2 separate regions of the Homo sapiens genome follow, and region 1 is linked to region 2. Evidence: fine-mapped expression QTL. A gene starts in region 2. The other region holds a variant in brackets. All regions are shown on one strand. Distances are between the middles of the regions. Region 1 holds the start of TRY-GTA5-4 (tRNA-Tyr (anticodon GTA) 5-4). Region 2 holds the start of TOX4 (TOX high mobility group box family member 4).

Region 1 (10,401 bases), 810 kb before region 2:
CTGAGCTATCGAAGGGTGCACGCTGCAAGAGCTGGATCACTGGACTTTCCGCAAATGGAGGAAGCCAAGTCCTTGGAACGCTGGAGTCAACACACTTAGAGTTGATTGGAACCCGCCTTAGAAGAGAACCTTGCGCTGGTTGCCACCGCGCACCTCTCAGGGTGGAGCAAATCCTCCGAGTGTGGTTTCCTCGCGTCCCAGAGCGCTGATAGCCACAATCCAGGACGGGAGGCTCTCGCCTGTGGCCTTCCTCCACCTGTGCATCTCTGTTTTTACAAGTGAGGATGACAGCCCTCAGCGAAAGAAAACAAGAGGGTGAGAGGGCTCGGTCAGAGGGATGGGCTAGGTGGATGGGTGGATCCTGTGGGACAGGGGTTGCAGGAGGAGGAAAGAAGAACTCGGAAAGCTTCTGGGTGGGCGGCCGCTATCCGCAGACCAGCTGCAGGGTCTGCTGAAAGTCCTTAAGCAGCCCTTTCCTAAAACTCTGGCCTTCCTACTCCCTTCCCGGCCAACACACACATGCCCCTTCTCCCGATGTGCCTCCGCCCTTTTCCCTACAGTGTCCTATGCTTGCTTTTTGGCGCATTCAAGTGTGCTAGAAGTGAGAGAGAGAACAAATGGGACTAGGTGAGAAGAACTCGCCCAGGGCTTGCAGATGCACTGTGATACCCTCCTTCCTCCCCAGCGCCCAACTGGGGCTTGGCTTCCCTCCTCTGCAAACTGACCAAGAACTCTTTTTTTTTTCTCCCCCAGAGGCTTCCTCTTTCTGAAGTAGGGCAAGTATATTAGTCCGTTTTCATGCTGCGGATAAAGACATACCCGAGACTGGGATGAAAAAGAGGTTTAATTGGACTCACAGTTCCACATGCCTAGGGGGCCTCAGAATCATGGCTGGAGGTGAAAGGCACTTCTTCTTCTTCTTCTTCTTCTTCTTCTTTTTTTTTTTTTTTTTTTGAGATGGAGTTTCACTCTCGTTGCCCAGGCTGGAGTGAAATGGCGCGATCTCAGCTCACCGCCACCTCCGCCTCCCAGGTTCAAGCGATTCTGCCGCCTCAGCCTCCGGAGTAGCTGGGATTACAGGTATGCGCCGCCACGCCCGGCTAATTTTGCATTTTTAGTAAAGACTTGGGGTTTCTCCATGTTGGCCAGGCTGGTCTTGAACTCCCGACCTTAGGTGATCCACCCTCCTCGGCCTCCCAAAGTGCTGGGATTACAGGCGTGAGCCACCCCTCCTGTCCAAGGCACTTCTTACATGGCAGAGGCAGGAGAAAATAAGAGAGAAGCAAAAGCGGAAACCCCTGGTAAACCCATCAGATCTTGTGAGACTTATTCACTATCCTGAGAATAGCACTGGAAAAACTGGCCCCCGTGATTCAATTATCTCCCCCTGGTCCCTCTCACAACACGTGGGAATTTTGGGAGATACAATTCAAGTTGAGATTTGGGTAGGGACACAGCCAAACAGTATCATTCCGCCCCTGGCCTCTCTAAATCTCATGTCCTCACATTTGAACACCAATTATGCCTTCCCAACAGTCCCCCAAAGTCTTAACTCATTTCAGCGTTAACCCAAAAGTCCACAGTCCAAAGTCTTATCTAAGACAAGGAAAGTCCCTTCTGCCTATGAGCCTGTAAAATCAAAAGCAAGCTCGTTACTTCCTAGACACAATGGGGGTACAGGTATTGGATAAATACAGCCATTCCAAATGGGAGAAATTTGCCAAAACGAAGGAGTTACAGAGCCCATGCAAGTCCGAAATCCAGCAGGGCTGTCAAATTTTAAAGCTTCAAAATGATCTCCTTTGACTTCAGGTCTCACATCCAGGTCACACTGATGCAAGAGGTGGATTCCCATGGTCTTAGGCAGCTCCACCCCTGTGTCTTTGAAGGATACAGCCTCTCTCCAAGCTGCTTTCCTGGGCTGGCCTTGAGGGTCTGCAGCTTTTCCAGGTGCACGGTGCAAGCTGTCAGTGGATCTACCATTCTGGGGTCTGGAGGATAGTGGCCCTCTTCTCACAGCTCCACTAGGCAATGCCCCAGTAGGGACTCTGTGTGGGGGCTCTGACCACACATTTCCCTTTCACATTGTCCTAGCAGAGGTTCTCCATAAGGGCCCCACCCCTGCAGCAAGCTTTTGCCTGGGCATCCAAGCGTTTCCATACTCTTCTGAAATCTAGGAGGAGGTTCCCAAACCTCAATTCTTGACTTCTGTGCACCCGCAGGCTCAACACCACATGGAAGCTGCCAAGGCTTGGGGCTTCCACCCTCTGAAGCTACCGCCCAAGCTGTATGTTAGCCCCTTTCAGCCACAGGGGGAGCAGCTGGGACACAGAGCACGGAGTTCCTAGGCTGCACACAGCACTAGGACCCTGGGCCCGGCCCACGAAACCACTTTTTCCTCCTGGGCTTCTGGGCCTGTGATGGATGGGAGGGGCTGCCGTGGTGGTCTCTGACATGGCCTGGAGACATTTTCCCCATGGTCTTGGGGATTAACATTAGGCTTCTTGCTACTTGTGCAAATTTCTGTAGCCAGTTTGAATTTCTCACCAGAAAATGGGTTTGGGTTTTTCTTTTCTATCACATAGTCAGGCTGCAAATTTTCCAAACTTTTATGTTCTGCTTCCTATATAAAACTGAACGCCGCCGGGCGTGTTGGCTCACGCCTGTAATCCCAGCACTTTAGGAGGCCGAGGCGGGCGGATCACAAGGTCAGGAGATCAAGGCTAACATGGTGAAACCCCGTCTCTACTAAAAATACCAAAAAAAAATTAGCCGGGCGTGGTGGCGGTCACCTGTAGTTCCAGCTACTCGGAAGGCTGAGACAGGAGAATGGTGTGAACCCAGGAGGCAGAACTTGCAGTGAGCCGATATCGCGCCACTGCACTCCAGCCTGGGCGACAGAGCAAGACTCCATCTCAAAAAAAAAAAAAAACCAAAACTGAATGCCTTTAACATACCCAAGTCACCTCTTGAATGCTTTGCTGCTTAGAAATTTCTTCTGCCAGGTACCCTAAATCATCTTACTCAAGTTCAAAGTTCCACAAATCTTTAGGGCAGAGGCAAAATGCTGTTAATTTCTTTGCTAAAACATAACAAGAATAATCTTTGCTCCAGTTCCCAACAAGTTCCTTATCTCCATCTGAGACCACCTCAGCCTGCATTTTATTATCCATATCACTATCAGCATTTTGGGTAAAGTCATTCAACAAGTCTCTAAGAAGTTCCAAACTTTCCCACATTTCCGTGTCTTCTTCTGAACCCTCCAAACTGTTCCAATCTATGCCTGTTACCCAGTTCCAAAGTCACTTCCGCATTTTTGGGTATCTTTTCAGCAATGCCGCACTCTACTGGTACCAATTTACTGTATTAGTCCATTTTCACGCTGCTGATAAAGACATACCCCAGAGTGGGATGAAAAAGAGGTTTAATTGGACTTACAATTTCACATGGCTGGGGAGGCCTCAGAATCATGGTGGGAGGCAAAAGGCACTTCTTACATGACAGTGGCAGGAGAAAATGAAAGAGAAGCAGAGCAGAAACCCCTGATAAACCCATCAGATCTCGTGAGACTTATTCACAAGAATAGCACAGGAAAGACTGGCCCCCATGATTCAATTACCTCCGCCTGGGTCCCTCCCACAACACGTTGGAATTTTGGGAGATACAATTCAAGTTGAGATTTGGGTGGGGACACAGCCAAGCCATATCAGCAAGGTTCTGTGGGTTTCTTGGAAAAAAAAAAAAAAAAACAAAATAAACAAACAAAAAAATGGTGGCAGAGTACAGAGGTGTGAGTTTCTCCTGACACCACATCTTTGGCAAAGGTTTCAGATCCCATCTGCTGTATGCCCACCACCCCAAGACCACGGAGACACCCACCCCCCTGCTGAACACCTAGTGGGGGTACAGCAAGCCACCCCAAGGGACCTAGCATCCATTGAGTTTAAGTCCACTCCCTGTCTTATGCTAAGTGGGTCTGAATGGCCAAAGGTGAGAGTCAGATGCATGAACACCCCTTGCTACTCTGTCATGTCCCAGACTGGAAAAGTGGGCATCTGGGGTTCACCCTCGCTTGTGCTGGTCACCAAAGCCCACTACCTGGCCCCCTTCTGCTTTTGCCCTCAAAACACCAAACTGAGGTTTCAGAGGACCTGTACCTCCATGTCCCATCAGGAACATATCTAATGAAGACCTAAGGTGCTACCTTTGGTCCCTGTTCACTGGTCTCTGTTTTTGGTGTCACTGGAGACTGGGGTCTCTCTGCAGCTCCACAGCCATACAATCGTCTCAGAGCACTGGTGAATCCACAGCTTGGCTCCTTTCCACTAGCAGTGAGAAGTGGGAAAGATTGACACAGCCGGGGGAACGTGAGGGGAATAGGCAGTGTTGGGGGAGACCGTCTGCTGCTTTCCAGGAGAAGAAGACACATACAGTCTCCAGATTGAGACCCACAATGAAGCAGTTCTTGTGGCCACAGAGGGTAGGGGAGGGCAGGGACCCAGTCCTCAAAGGGCTTCAGAGGGCCATGCTCCCATGGACCACTGGGCTTAGAGTGCTCTCTGTGATAGGTTGCATCTGTACACCAAGTGTCTGATGCACATTTTTCTGAGATCTTGGGATGAGACCAAGGGACACTCATTGGCTTTCTTCTCTGCCCCATACCCACAAAACCCACTGCATCTCCACAGATATGAAGCTCCACTGGTTGGTGAAAGCCCAGTCCATTTTCTGCTCCATCCTCTCTGACTGGGCTTCAACATATTTTTCTCAGAGGTAGGAGAGCCCAACTGTGCTGCTAGATCCTAGTGCAAAAGGTCCAAACTGCTCAGACCCACCAGGCAGTGGCCTTTCTAAGGAGGTGAATTTGTGTGCCGCTGTATGATGACAGATGTCACTCAAGTTTCACTTCTGTTTCCTGTCATAGACCAACAATCCCCAACTCTCCCAAGTCACTGAAGCTCTTTTCAGGCCTGCCATTTTGTACTTCCTTCCTGCTCTCACAGCCTCCTAAGTGGCAGGTGTTTTTGACATCTTTGAACTAAGCGGTGAGTGTTAGGTATTCTTACTCTTCCAGCAGGAGCCAAGCCCAGCTGTAGCAAAATAAAAAGATGTGAAGACTCAGGAAAGGTGAGGCTTGAGGGATTTAGGACAGGGGTGAGTGGGTAGACACACCATGTCCTCATCCCATGGGGCAACCTGACCTTGCCAATGGAGGTTCTTTGCCTTAGAAAATTCTCAGGGTGGCTGCTGTCTCCCCAAGTAGACACAACATAGCAAGGATGAGCATTTTCTGTCTGTATGAGTCTATACATTTCCGGCAAAGGAGAATGAGAGAGACACAGAGTGCTAGGGAGAAGGGGCAGAGACAGACAGAGAGAAATATACACAGACAGAGAGAGAAATTGTGAAAGAGAGAGAGAGAATGAGATACAGACAGAGGTGAGGTAGTAATAGCTCAGGAAGGAAATGAGGGGGAGAGGGTGAGTTCACGGATGGTATCATGGTTGTCCTCGACCCTACACTGTTGTCCTGAATGCTTGATGGTCTCCTGGGAGCTTGGCTTTCCAGGGTTTGCCAACCTGGTCAGGAGAGCTTGGTCACAGATGAATCCAGCTGTGTTGCCAGATTCCCCAGCAGTGCTTAGGTCCAAAAGCACCCTGTGAATAAAAATGAAGCAGCCCTGAGATGGTAAGGGTTCGGATGGGGGATTGGCTGGGTCACAAAGCAGAAGTAAGGGGCACTTTGCACTGAAGTGTACTGGCAACAGCACAGGCATGGCAAGCTAGGTAATCTGGATAAGGCTTTGCTGGGTTTTGCCTGGGAGAGTGTGGCGACAGCAGGGC[G/A]TTTGACCAGGCAGAGGTGCAGCCAGGGAGCACTGGTGTGTGTACAAAAGACTCAGACACTTCCCTCAAGCAGGAATTGAACCAGCAACCTAAGGATGTCCACAGATGTGTACAGTCCTCCACTCTATCAGCTGATCTCTCAAAGAGCACACAAAGTTAGAGCTGGGTCACTGGACTTTCTGCAAATGGAGGACACCAAGTCCCTGGAATGCCAGAGGTCCAATATGTGTTGGGTTGGTTGGAACCTGCCTTGGAAGAGAACCCTGCGCTCTTGTTGCCCAGGATGGAGTGCAATGGCACAATCTTGGCTTACTGCAACCTCCACCTCCCAGGTTCAAGCAATTCGCCTGCCTCAGCCTCCCGAGTAGCTGGGATTACAGGCATGTGCTGCCATGCCTGGCTAATTTTGTATTTTTAGTAGAGACTTGGGGTTTCTCCATGTTGGTCAGGCTGATCTCGAACTCCTGACCTCAAGTGATCTGCCTGCCTCGGCCTCCCAAAGTGCTGGGATTACAGGCGTGAGCTACTGTGCCCAGCCCGGAATAAAACAGTTTTACTTCTTCCTTTAAACATGGATGGCTTCCATTTTTATTTTTTTGCATTACTGTTCAAGAATCTCCACACATTGCTGATGATAGTGATGAAAGCAGATGTCCTTGCTTGTCCTAATCTCACAGGGAAATCATTCAGTCTTTCATCATTAAGTGTATTGTTAGCTGAAAGTTTTTCATACGTGCCCTTTATCAGATTGAGAAAAGGCCCTTCTATTTCTAATTCGCTGAGTTTATATGAGAAGCGAATGTGTAGCGGGCATTGGTGGCTCATGTCTATAATCTAAGCGCTTTGGAAAGCCAAGATGAGAGGATCACTTTAGCCCAGGAGTGCAAGACCAACGTGGGCAACAAAGTGAGAACCCGCCTTTATGAAAAATTTTAAAACATTATCAGGGCGCCAGGCGCAGTGGCTCACGCCTGTAATCCCAGCACTTTGGGAGGCTGAGGCGGGAGGATCACCTGAGGTCAGGAGTTCCAGACCAGCCTGGCCAACATGGTGAAACCCCATCTCTACTAAAAATACAAAAAAATTAGCCAGGTGTGGTGGTGGGAGCCTGTAATCCCAGCTACTCGGGAGGCTGAGGCAGGAGAATCACTTGAATTTGGGAGGCGGAGGTTGCAGTGAGATCGCACCTCTGCACTCCAGCCTGGGCAACAAAGAGCGAAACTCCATCTCAAAGAAAAAAAAAAACGAAAATAAAGAAAAAGATATTATCAGGGCATGGTGGCACACACTGGTAGTCCCAGCTACTCAGGAGGCTGAGGCAGGAAGATCACTTGAGCCTAAGAAGTTGAGGCTGTAGTGAGCTATGGTTGTGCCACTGCCCTTCAGCTTGGGGGACAGAGGGAAACCCTCATCTCTAAAAATATAAGTAAGCAATAAATAAACAAATGTGAAATTGTGACAAATGTTTTGTCTACATCTTTTGATATAATCATGTTTTTCTTTTTAATATAATATAGTTTGTTAATATAATAAATTACATTGATTAATTTTGAATATCAAACCAAATTTGCTTTTCTGGGATAAATCCCCCTTGATTCTGATGTATCATTATTTTATATACTGTTGGATTCAACTCGCCGAAGTTATGTTAAACTTTTTGGCTTCCATGTTCTTAAGAGACACTGACCTGTAGTTTTCTTTCTTTTGAAGTATCTTTGCTTTTAATATCAGAATACACTGTCCTCATGTAAAGAGTTGAGAATTATTATCTCCTCTCCAGTTTTGCTGCAAGAAGTTGTGTAGAATTGTCATTATTCCTGAAACATTTATTAAAATTCACCAGTGAAGTTATCTGAGCTTGGTAAATACATCCCAGAGCATAAAAACTGAAGCAACTGGAGCCCCAGTGAGGCTAGAACTCACACCTTTGTTACAGCCTGGCGCATTAACCCTTGACTTGCTGACCTTACTATTTTACTCTTCTAGGAGACATCTTCATTTTGTTGATCCACAACCAAGAAAACTAACAGAAGGAAAAAGGAATAGATATTTGTCTCTAGGCTCAAGCAATTGCAACCCTCCTCCCAAAGTCATCATACAAGAAGACAAGGCCCCAGGCCAGACCAGGAATACAATCTGCATAAATGTTGTCTGGACAAAGCCCTTGCCCCCATCCCCCTCCTGATTTTTCCTGCATGGCACTTGTCAGAAAAAGGAAAATCTGAAAGAACAATGTTTAAAAGTGGCCCAAGATGGCTGCAGGTTGAGCATATAGGTAATAGAAACTAGACCTATGAACTAAAGCTGAACTCTAGCCTGAAAGGCTAAAGTTTGTCTTTTTTTGTCTTTTTTTTTTTTTTTGAGACAGAGTCTTGCTCTGTTGCCCAGGCTGGAGTGCAGTGGCATGATTTCGGCTCACTGCAACCTGCTGCCTCCTAGGTTCAAGTGATCCTCCTGCCTCAGCCTCCCAAGTAGCTGGGACTATAGGCACACACCACCATGTCTGGCTACTTTTTGTATTTTTTTTTTTTTTTTTAGCAGAGTCAGGGTTTTGCCATGTTGGGCAAGCTGGTCTCAAACTCCTGACCTCAGGTAACCACCTACGTCTGCTTCCCAAAGTTCTGGGATTACAGCCGCGAGCCACCACACCCAGCCATGTCAAATGTTTTCACTGATGTCTACTGATTGTAACCTTGCCTAGCAGATGAAGCACAAAGGCAGTGTCAACTGAAAAGTGACATAACAGGCACTTGAACTTAAAGAAGTCATGGTTAGATTTATTCTCAGCCAAGTTTGAGGAGTTATGCCTGAGAACACAGACTTAGAATAGACCTACAATAGGTCCCAAAGTAGTTTACATGAGGCACAGTATACTTAAATTTTCTAACGGGGATGTGTGTGGCACAGGAGGGAGAAGTGGTTAATGAAACAGTGGTTACATTGTTGTGATTCTGATGAGTGCTCAGTGATGCCATACATAAGGTAAATATACAGTTGAGTGAGTAGGGAGAAAGGCTAAGCATCTTAGAGTCTGGTGGAGGAAGGGTGACTAATTCCATTCTGTCTTTGTTCTACATCTGATAAACAGGTTCATGGCCAGCCCCTGTCAACAAACTCCAGTTACACAGGCAAGAGATCAGCTTTAGTTTATAGGCCTGGGTTTTATTACCCATATGCCCAACTGCAGCCATTGTGGGCCCATATTAACATTTTATTTGAATTTTCCTTTTTCTAACAGCAAGATAACATCAGTCATTCCCCTCCAAACCCTAAGATGCGTACATACTCCTTTACTTGTTACCCTATCCCTATATATGTTAACCACACTTTTGGTTTGTCTGTGAATACCATCACTAAACATCAGTCAAAACTGTAAAAATGTCACCTTTGCTTCACTGCCCCCTTCTTTGATTTTTTATTTAGAAAAAACATGTAAATACCGTGCCTCATGTAACCCACTCTGGGACACATTCTCAGTTTGCACTGTTTGTGTTCCAGGCTACGGTTCTCAACTTGGTTTGGGACAAAATTAATTTTGATTTCTTTAAGTCCATAGTGCCTATTATTTTAACCTTTTGGCTTGACACACTGGGGAAACATGGGCCCACTATGACTACTTTGTCTCTCCTGACCTGGAAAATTAGTATCAGTGCAGACTGCCTGAGACCTTCGCTAGACCCAGATTCCCCACCGCCAGCAATCTCCCCAGTTTCTCAGTAGAAGCTATGAGAAGAGTGCAGCTGGTGAAACCACCTTTACAAAAATTATAACAGTGAAAGAAGTCTGATGTAACCAACTCCATCTTTTTTTTTTTTTTTTTCCGAGACGGAGTCTTGCTCTGTTGCCCAGGCTGGAGTGCAGTGGCGCAACCTCGGCTCGCTGCAACCTCCGCCTCCCGGGTTCAAGCGATTCTCCTGCCTCAGCCTCCCGAGTATCTAGGATTACAGGCGTGCACCACTACGCTCGGCTAATTTTTGTATTTTTTAATAGAGATGGGTGTTCACCATGTTGGCCAGGCTGGTCTCCACCTATTGACCTCAAGTGATCTGCCCGCCTTGGCCTCCCAAAGTGCTGGGATTACAGGCGTGAGCCACCGCACCCGGCTACCAACTCGATCTTGCTTCTAACCTCCAAGCTTCCTTTGCTCATTTCTGGGCGTATGCCAAGCAAACCACGGGAGGAATTTAGTTTGTAGTTTAACTTTCAGACAAACATGACAACAGCCCCTTCATGAAGCAAACCCCCTCCTTGCTTGGGGGTCAGACCTCCTTTGTAAAAGCAACAACTTAGCCCACAGTATTAGAAATTATGGCTCAGGAGTCATATAGCCAGAGGCCACAAGATCCTAACCTCCTCAATTGCTCCTATAGATAACATTATTATTGTAAAAATCTAAGATTGCTGTTCTAGGTATTTTTCAGACTCTGCATTCTGAATGGATCAGCTGGCGTCACCGAGATCGATAAACTGGCCCCCTCTCAGGAACTGACTCAGTGAAAGAAGGCAAGCTCCGACTCCCTGTGATTTTATCTCTGACCTAACTAATCAGCATTCCCCT
Region 2 (10,108 bases):
CACCCGCCTCGGCCTCCCAAAGTGCTGGGATTACAGGCATGAGCCACCGTGCCTGGCTTATTATTTCCTTTTAAAAATGGGGAAAATGAGGCTCACACAAGTTTAATAAACGGCCCCAAATCATAAAGCTTATTAAGTGCTAGAGCCATAATTTAAACTTAGGATCTTAGTACTTCCTAGGACAAAAACTTGTCCTCTTAGCCACTATATCATATAACCTAAACTGGGGTTTGTAGGTGAGAAGAGAATTCCAGTATACTAACTCTAAGGTTAATTTTCCAACAACAGAAGAATCTCTTTCTATAAGAATCATAGAAACATGTGAGTGAGTTGCATAGCTGTTAGAGAATCAGAATCGGAAAATAAAAACTAATTCTGAAGTCCCCTGTCATAATACTAATAATATTTTAAGATTAAAAAAATACTTACAGTTTTATATTTACTCCCTAATGTCTTACGTTATTTGGGTCTTGTTTTCCTTTTAGCACTTACTTTTTCTCCTCTTCTGCTATGGTTGTAAGCCTCCCTCTACTTCCCTCACAGCCTACCAAGAACTAAAAGGGAAAGTTTGAGGGAGGCCCACATGATGGTTCAATCACATGGCAGCATTTATCTTTAGCAGCTGAAAATGCTATCAGTGGGTCATGAGAAAACCTTTTAAAATCAAATCACTCACCAGGCGCAGTGGCTCATGCCTGTAATCCCAGCACTTTGGGAGGCCAAGGCGGGCAGATCACGAGGTCAGGAGTTTGAGACCAGCCTGACCAACATGATGAAACCCCATCTCTGCTAAAAATACAAAAAAAAAAAAAAAAAAAAAAAAAAAAAAATAGGTGGGCGTGGTGGCGCACGCCTGTAATCCCAGCTACTCAGGAGGCTAAGGCAGGAGAACTGCTTGAGCCCGGGAGGCAGAGGCTGCAGTAAGCCAAGATGGCGCTATTGCACTCCAGCCTGGGCAACAGAGTGAGACTCTGTCTAAATTAAAAAAAAAAAAAAAATCACTCTACTTCATCTCATTCCAGTTCATGAGCCAAAGTTTGTGAACCAGTAAGCTAGAAAGAGTGAGCAGTTCAATTTGGTCTTGTCTATATCAGTCTCAGGTATCCTTGGCCATCCCCAGTAAAAAAATCTGAAGCAGCAGGCTGGGCACCGTGGGTCATGCCTATAATCCCAGCACTTTGGGAGGCCAAGGTGGGCAGATCATTTGAGCTCAGGAGTTTGAGACCAGCCTGGGCAACATGGTGAAACCACGCCTCTAAAAAAAATACAAAAAATTAGCCAGGTGTGATGGCACACATCTGTAGTCCCAGCTACTTGAGGGGCTGAGGTGGGAGGACTAGTTGAGCCGGGGAGGTTGAGGGTGCAATGAGTGGAGATGGTGCCACTGCACTCCAGCTTGGGTGACAGAGCAAGACCCTGTCAAAAAAAAAAAAAAAAGAAAAGAAAAGATGCAGCAGCAACGAACTAAGATGAAGGTTTTTTTTTCCTTTTTTTTTTTTGAGAGGGAGTCTCGCTCTGTTGCCCAGGCTGGAGTGCAGTGGCATGATCTTGGCTCACTGCAACCTCCGCCTCCCAGGTTCAAGTGATTCTCCTGCCTCAGCCTCCCCAGTAGCTGGCATTACAGGCGCCCGCCACCACACCTGGCTAATTTTTTTATTTTTAGTAGAGATGGGGTTTCACCATGTTGGCCAGGCTAGTCTCAAACTCCTGACCTCAGGTGATCCGCCTGCCTCAGCCTCCCAAAGTGCTGGAATTACAGGCATGAGCCACGACACCCGGCCTAGATGAAGGTTTGATAAGATAATTAATAGCTTTCTAATCTCTCCCAAGTGGAAGCATCATACTATATTAAGATATACAGTTTGAAGTATCAACTCCTAGAAAGTCAGATACACCATTTTCCTAAGAATCAAAATGCATTCCTTCCAATGAACGGTTTATTAAGGAAAAAAAAATTTTAATTGCATTCCAAAGTAAAATACAAACCAATTTGATATTATTTGATCAGTATTTTATATTACAGTAAAATACCTATTCATTAGCATGATTATTTAGGAATACGTGTATACACACACACACACGATTTTTTAAAATATGCTTCTCTAAATCCACATAAATGCCAGAACAAAGACAACAAAAACCTTTGGACAACCTGATCTCTTTAAAATACCTATCACAGTAATCCCTAAACATTTTCATGTAGGATGGGTTTGGAAGTAAGTGAGAGAATGGGTCAATAAAGTGGGAAGCTAAGATGGGTAAACAATGGGCAGGAGATCAGGGCTGACAACGGAGAAATGACCAGACTTACCCAAAAGGCGACAGACTAGATGGACACATTATTATACGTATGAATCTTTTAAAATTTTCAAAATATATAGAAAACCACAGTGTTCTGAAACTGGTTCCTTTTTATGATTTAGCAAATATTAATCTCAAGACAATTTTAAGAGGGAACAGAAAAGAACTAGGCCAGTTGGATGACCATGTAGTTCTTAAGGATTCTGTCCAAAGTCGTGGCTCTCAACTTTCCTTTTTTGTTTGTTTTTCTATGTATGCATTCTCAGCAGAATCAAGCTCTCAACTTTCTTACTTTCATGATCCAACCATGTCCCATATGAGTGCTTAAAAAAAAAAAAAAAAGGCCATTGCCATGACCATTCCATTAAATGGCACTTATTGGGTTTTTTTCCCCAGCATCAAAACATTCATCTGGGCCAGGTGCCAAGGCTCAGGCCTGTAATCCCAACACTTTGGGAGGCTGAGGAGGGCGGATCACTTGAGTCCAGGAATTCGAGACCAGCCTGGGAAACATGTTGAAACCCCCGTCTCTACAAAAAATACAAAAATTCCCCAGTGCAGGGGATCAGGGGATAGATCTGTAGAGATAGACGGATAGATGGATGGATAGACAGATGAACTTAAGCTTCAACTACTTTTAAGACATACACTTGCGTGTGGTGAGGAGCATTGGGGAGGGAAGGAGAGGAAAGGGAGGAAAAGAAAAAAGGAAAAATAATGTGTACACTGTTTGCAGATATAATGGCTTTAGCTCTCAGTTCAGAGAAGAAACAGAATCACATAGTAAGAAGTAAGCAAAAAAAGTAAGAGATTTTAGCCAAATATTATTTACTAGCTATTTACTAGCTCCCTTTAACTAGAATGGAGACTAAGGTATTATTTTACTTAGGGGGAAAAATGTACAAATCAAATGAGATAATGCACATGAAAGCAATTTATCTGGATAGGGCAAAACTACACTAAGCCAAGCTAAATTTTGGCATTACTACATGTATCAAATTTGAAAATATGTACAAGCTTTTGACAGAGTTTCCATTTCTGGGCAGATATTCCACAAAAATTCTCAAACATTGGCATAAAAACTTTGTAAATAAGGATGTTCAGGCTGGGCACTGTGGCTCACGCCTGTAATCCCAGCATTTTGAGAGGCCTAGGTGGGTGGATCACCTGAGGTCAGTTCAACACCGGCCTGGCCAACATGGCAAAACCCCATCTCTATTAAAAATACAAAAAACGTCCGGGAGTGGTGGCTCACACCTGTAATCCCGGCACTTTGGGAGGCTGAGGCGGGCGGATCACGAGGTCAGGAGATCGAGACCATGCTGGCTAACACGGTGAAACCCCCTCTCTACTAAAAATACAAAAAATTAGCCAGGCGTGGTGTCAGGCGCCTGTAGTCCCAGCTATTCGGGAGGCTGAGACAGGAGAATGGCACGAACCCGGGAGGCGGAGCTTGCAGTGAGCTGAGATCACGCCACTGCACTCCAGCCTGGGCAACAGAGTAAGACTCCGTCTCAGAAAAAAAATACAAAAAATACAAAAAACATTAGCCACGTGTGGTGGTGGGTGCCTGTAATCCCGGCTACTCAGGAGGCTGAGGCTGGAGAATTGCTTGAACCCAGGCGGTGGAGGTCGCGGTGAGCCAAGATTACGCCATTGCATTCCAGCCTGGGTGACAAGAGTGAATCTCTGTCTCAAAAAAAAGAATGCTCAGTGAAATTCTGCAATACTTAAAAATTGGAAAACAACCCAAATTTCTATCAGTAGGATGATGGTTACATAAATCATGCTACTGACATTCCATGACTACGCAGTGGTTAAAAGGAATGAGACAGATCTATATGTATTGATATGGAAAGGTCCCCACAACATAGAGATTGTTTAATATACAATCTAAGTCACACAACTAGGTCTACTCTGTCACGATTCTATACATGTAAACACTAATAAAAACAAAACTACTACCATATATTTCTATGTGTTTACATGTATGTATCTAAATGCATAGAAAAAGTCTGAAAGCATACACGTGGAATCATCAGTAATGATTTCCCTGCTAGAGTACCAACCAAGATGGGAAGGGAGAAAGAGTTTATGTATCAAAAGGGGACATTTACTTTCTATTCTATAAATTTATATTGTTTGATTTTATTTTTACTAGAATAAACTATTACTTGGATCGTTTACAACACAAAGATACAGCATCCAGAATTTGTAACTGTAACAGAATCAAAAACTTCTCTCTTTGATTTCACCTTTCCCCTACTTTATCCCCACCATTAGTTCCACCCTCATCGCCCCTTTCCTTTGCATCAGCTTTTCTTGTTATACTTGGATATTGGTCAGAGACTAAATTATTTTGTACTCTCACCGTATCCCAGATTTGCAGTTTGATTTGTTTTCCATCAATGTTGACCATACGAGCTCCAAACTCCACACCTGTCGGTAAAGACCGAGAGAAAGAATGTGATTCTCACGAACAGCAGCCACGTGGAGTGGGAGGTTCCTGCCTTTCCTCAATGTGTTATAACCATCCTTTGTCTGAACTCAATGCCACTAATTCCATTATTGCTGCCTATTTGCTCCAATTAATTTTGTGTTTCTTAAGGTTCTTCATTTCCCTTCTAGAATTAAAAAATTGTGCTCAATGACCTCAGGAATGTAACCAAAAAGCAGATATGGGAAAATAAAACCAATTAAGAAGTCAAATTTAAAAAGGTGAATACTTTTTTAGCAATGTTAGGTTAATGCTTAAATTTGGTTAGGTAACATTTAGTTTTGTAACTTTTCCAAAAAACTAAAAATTTTGGAAATATTTCCTGACACTTTCTCAGTCACTCTTTAGTCTCTACTTAAAACAATATTTATTTTTTTGCAATTCCAGATGTTTTTCTTTAAGAAAAGAGCCTAAGAAATAGGTTCTCAGAAACAATACTTTTTTTTTTTTTTTTTTGAGATGGAGTCTCGCTCCGTCACCCAGGCTGGAGTGCAGTGGTGCGATCTCAGCTCACTGCAGCCTCCACCTCCTGAGTTCAAGTGATTCTCCTGCCTCAGCCTCCCAAGTAAGTACCTTACAGGCACACGCCACAACGCCCACCTAATTTTTTTAACAATACATTTTACATTTCCAATAATTGCCAGAGGCACAATTAAGCATTGTTGCCTTGTTAAGCATTGTATCATTAGCCCCTATCGCAAAGTGAGAATTCGCTCAATATTCCCTTTAAAATACCTTTTAGTTGATACTGCCAAATCCTTTTCTAACCCCATCAATTATTTGACTCTAAATAAATCCGTTAGGAACAGTGGTAGCTTCAGGTTTCCATACAGGTGGGACTTGGAAGTAGCAATATGGTAAGAATGGGGATGTAGGGGTTTATTTAGAAACTGCATTTGCATGGCAAGAAAGCTAGTTTCATATATGTTGTTTATTTGGACTGGGGTTACGGAGATAACGAAGAGGGGGTAGTTAAAAGCCTCTTCAGGCCATGCCTTATCACAAACGTGTGGGAAAGGTTAATATTTTCCAGGATCGCCAGTGCGTTTGAGGAACTGTTAACACACTCTTTCATTTAAAAGGAAAGTTTTTAGTTTTATTTGCCTATTAATTCTAAGGCAGGGATGACTCCTCAATTTGCTTCTTCACCAATATAAAAAATGTCCATGTATTGGTGTTTACTTTTTAAAAGTAAGGCTGGTATTAATTTACCTCAAAGCACAGATGAGTTCATAAATAAGCAGTTATGCTTTCGTGGGATTTTCCATAAACATACAAATTGTATTTGAAAAAAAATTATATGACGAGTCTATACCTCACACTCTAAAAAGTTACCTTTCAATTATATACTCTCCCTTACACTACTCCCCACATATCAACGTTTCATTGGTCACTTCATTAACATAAGTTTGGACTAGTTTAAAGTAGTGAGGGGTAACTTTTTACTTCGAACACTGAAGGCTGCTAACTTTCCACTTTAGCAATTTAGCTAGTCAGGTTTTATCATCTGTTCTGGAACAAGTAGATGCACTTACCTATTGTGAGGTCGTGGACAGGCTGGAACCGCTTATCTGTAAACTGCAGGAGGAGACATGACTTCCCCACACCTGAAAGAGAAAGCACACTCCCGGAATCACGCAGCCCTGGAACACCTTCCAGAGTATGGACTTCCCGGACCAGAGAAGGGGGGCTCCCGAGCCCCGCCCCCGGCCGCCCCGAACCGCCCCGCCCGTCTCGAATCGCCCAGCCCACAAAGTGAGCCCCGCCCCCGCCACCCAATTTGGGAGCTTCGAATGCCCGCCCGAGCCTTGAAGGCGAACCACCTGAGGGTTACCTGTGTCTCCGATGATGATATACTTGAAGAGATAAGCATAAGTCATGGTGTCGCGTCCTCTGGGTTCCGGGTCCGCCCGACTTCTATAGCCACTTACCTCCGACCTCTCTAGCCACTCAATCTACCGATCTTCTTCTTCTCCCCCTTCCCCCCGCTCCCCCGCCCCTCCGGCTCCTCTAGCCCAGATCACGTCTCTATTGCACTCCCCGGAATCATCCTTAGGTCGGGAGTACCCTACGCCACCTCCAGGGACGCTTCTAGCACTTCTACATGCCCTTATCCCTCCAAACTCCAGGGGGCGATAGCCCAGCGCCTGACTCTCTGCAGCCCCACGGCGCTCCTTCCAATCAGCAGAGAGAACACACGTCCTTGCGGAAGTGACGGCAGTTCCGAGTCCAGTGGGGGCGGTGGGAGCGATGAGGGTCTGAGACGGTGGGAGCGGTTGTGTGAAGATGGAGGTAGGAACCTGATAGCTAAGAAGGCTGGCGAGAGAACGCGGCCGACCGGGTTGAAGCAGGGACGGGAAGCCGGGCGGAGAGGCGACTGACGGGAGAGGAGAGAGAGCGGGGTTTGGGGAGTGTTGTCAGAATGTCAGGGTCAAAAGCCATCGCTCCAAGCTGACTCCCTGCTCCCCCTAACTTATCCCCGCGACTTTCTTTTGGTTTCCAGTTTCCCGGAGGAAATGACAATTACCTGACGATCACAGGGCCTTCGCACCCCTTCCTGTCAGGGGCCGAGGTGAGCCAGAGCTGCCGACGCCGCGGGGGTAGGGCCTGAGGCAGCGGTGGGGTAGGGTAGTGGGGAGGAGAGCACGGACTCCGGGGACGGGGGCTGGGAACCAAGGGCCGCAATTGGTGTTTAGAGAAAAGTGGCGGTTGCTTCTAGAGCCTGTGGGGACTATCTGGGGAAGTCTTGGGAAGTTGCTGTCATCAGAAAGCAAGGTATTGGAAAGAGATAACCTGTTTAAAGAGAAAAGGGATTCTGGATTAGAAGACAGAGTGGAATTGTCTCCTTTCTCTGGGGAGAAATAGCTACAGTAATCTTAGGGGATCGCAGTGGAAAGAAAATGTTTCAGCAGCTGAAGAAATTGGGGTTGAGGGGAGGAGCTTATTGGTTTTCTTTTGTTTTGAGACAGAGTCTCGCTTTATCGCCCAGGTTGAAGTGCAGTGGTGCGATCTCGGCTCACTGCAACCTCTGTCTCCTGGGTTCAAGCGATTCTCCTGCCTCAGCCTCCCGAGTAGCTGGGATTACAGGCGTGCGCCACCACGCTCGGCTAATTTTTGTATATTTAGTAGAGATGGCAGTTTCACCATATTGGCCAGGCTGGTTTCGAACTCCTGACCTCAGGTGATCCACCCACCTCGGCCTCCCGGAGTGCTGGGATTACAGGCCTGAGCCATTGCGCCCGGCCTAAATTTCCTACTTTGATAAAAAATTTGTGGTTACCTTTACCTACATGGTGTCAGCTTGTTTTGCTAATGTCAGGAGGAAAGGAAATAGCTGCTAGAGAATATAAAAGAGTTGAGTAGGACATGTGTTTCAATTTGCCAGTGACTCAGACGTTGGGCACATTACTTCATCTTTGTATGTCACAGTTTCCCCAGCTGTCAAACAGCTGTAATTATAGTTTCTTATGCTGTTTTAAAGTAGAAGTAAAGGTTATGATGAAACCCTGAAGTGTTCGTTAAAAAAGTTTGGTTGAAATATTGTCATAATATAGATATGTATCACTTGTTTGGGAGAGGCAAAAGAGAATGGTGGAACAGACAAAAATTTCTGTCTTTGAGAAACTGAAGTCTTGAACCATCTGCCATTTTTTGAGGACTTTTATATTTATTTTCAAAAGTGGTGTGGACCATTTGCATCAGTTTTTTTTACCAAGAATTGTCAGTGGCTGTTGCATGGGCTTATCCTATAATCCTAACGTTTTCATGGATGAAAATGGGGTTGACAAGGGCCAGTTGCTAGTTTAACTTTTTTTTTCTTTCTTTTTTTTTTTGAGACAGTCTCCCTGTAGCCCAGGCTGGAGTGCAGTAGCACGATCTTGGCTCACTGCAGCCTCCACCTCCTGGGCTCAAGTGATTCTCCTGCCTCAACCTCCCAAGTAGCTGGGAATACAGGTGTGCGCCACCACACCCAGCTAATTTTTTTTTTTTTTTTGAATTTTTGTAGAGACGGGGTTTCACCCTGTTACCCAGGCTCTTTAACTCCTGGCCTCAAGTGATCTGCCCGCCTCAGCCTCCTAAAGTGCTAGGATTACAGGCATGAGCCAATGTGCCCAGTGCCAGTTTAACTTTTTTGTTGCTTTTATTTATTATTCTCATAAGCAGGATAAGTGTGAATCTAGTATGCAGCAAACTTTGAAATGATATAAAACCTAAATCTGGGCCCAGCACAGTAGCTCGTGCCAGTAATCCCAACTGTTTGGGAGGCTGAGGCAGGAGAATTGCATGAGCCCAAGAGTTCTAGACCAGCTTGGGCAACGTGATCAAACTCTGTCTCTATAAAAGATAATAATAATTAATTTTAAAAAAACAGGTGAGGCGGGGTGCGGTGGCTCATGCCTGTAATCCCAGCACTTTGGGAGGCCAAGGAGGGCGGATCACGAGGTCAGGAGTTCGAGACCAGCCTGACCAACATGTGAAACCCCATCTCTACTAAAAATACAAAAATTAGCCGGGTGTGGTGGTGCGCGCCTGTAATCCCAGATACTCAGGAGGCTGAGGCAGGAGAATCGCTTGAACCTGGGAGGCAGAGGTTGCAGTGAGCCGAGATTGCGCCATTGTACTCCAGCCTAGGTGAACGAGTGAGACTCCATCTCAAACAAACAAACAAAAACAGCTAAAATCTGCTTGGTGCTTTGCACTCTTAGTTGCCATTTTCTTCTAAGTGAGATCTTCATTTTTAAATTTCATTATTTGAGTGTTGCAAATCTCACATTGGACTTACCTGCATGAAATTCCCAATTTCTCCTCAATCAGGTCTCCACAGTTTAAATTTTGTTATTTAGAGTGTTATAAATTTTACGTTGGCCTCGTTCATGAGAAAGTGCATTTTAAAATTAAATACAAGTAGCTTTCAAGTTTACCCACTGTTCTTAATTCTCTACCCCATTTATGAAGTTGAACAATCAAGAGGTAGCCACATTTAAAAAAGTGGTTCCTTTTTGCTTTTGCTTTTGTTTTTAATAGAGACAGGATCTCACCATGTTGTCCAGGCTGGTCTCAAATTCCTAGGCTCAAGCGATCCTCCCACCTTGGCCTCCCAAAGTACTAGTATTGTAGGTGTGAGCCACCATGCCAGGACAGAAGTGGTTCCTTTTCACATCAAGAAACTTCCCATGAAGAATCATGGTGTATAGTGAAGAAAAGTAAATTTAAAGTATTAACAAGTAATATTATAATAAAAAAGAAAGAAACTTTCCAGGTTTGAATCTGTCCTTTGTTTTTGTTTTTGTGACTTAAGAAATCTTATTT

The links. PIP is the estimated chance that this variant, and not a neighbour inherited with it, causes the effect.
Region 1: its variant is fine-mapped to the expression of TOX4 in hippocampus (GTEx, PIP 0.97).

What each region holds. Positions count from the first base shown.
Region 1 is chr14:20,663,271-20,673,671 of GRCh38, forward strand. It overlaps TRY-GTA5-4 (tRNA-Tyr (anticodon GTA) 5-4), which reads right to left and starts at 15; the gene lies at 1-15. RefSeq lists enhancers at 1-209, 3,451-3,560, 4,699-5,038, 5,689-5,878 and a silencer at 320-389. The variant G/A (reference allele first, on the strand shown) is at 5,844.
Region 2 is chr14:21,470,195-21,480,302 of GRCh38, forward strand. TOX4 (TOX high mobility group box family member 4) reads left to right here and starts at 7,001. Exons shown (of 9, transcript NM_014828.4): 1 at 7,001-7,090; 2 at 7,302-7,370. The coding sequence starts at 7,085. RAB2B (RAB2B, member RAS oncogene family) reads right to left here and starts at 6,765. Exons shown (of 8, transcript NM_032846.4): 1 at 6,633-6,765; 2 at 6,334-6,405; 3 at 4,673-4,740. The coding sequence starts at 6,678. RefSeq lists enhancers at 6,182-6,301, 6,882-6,951.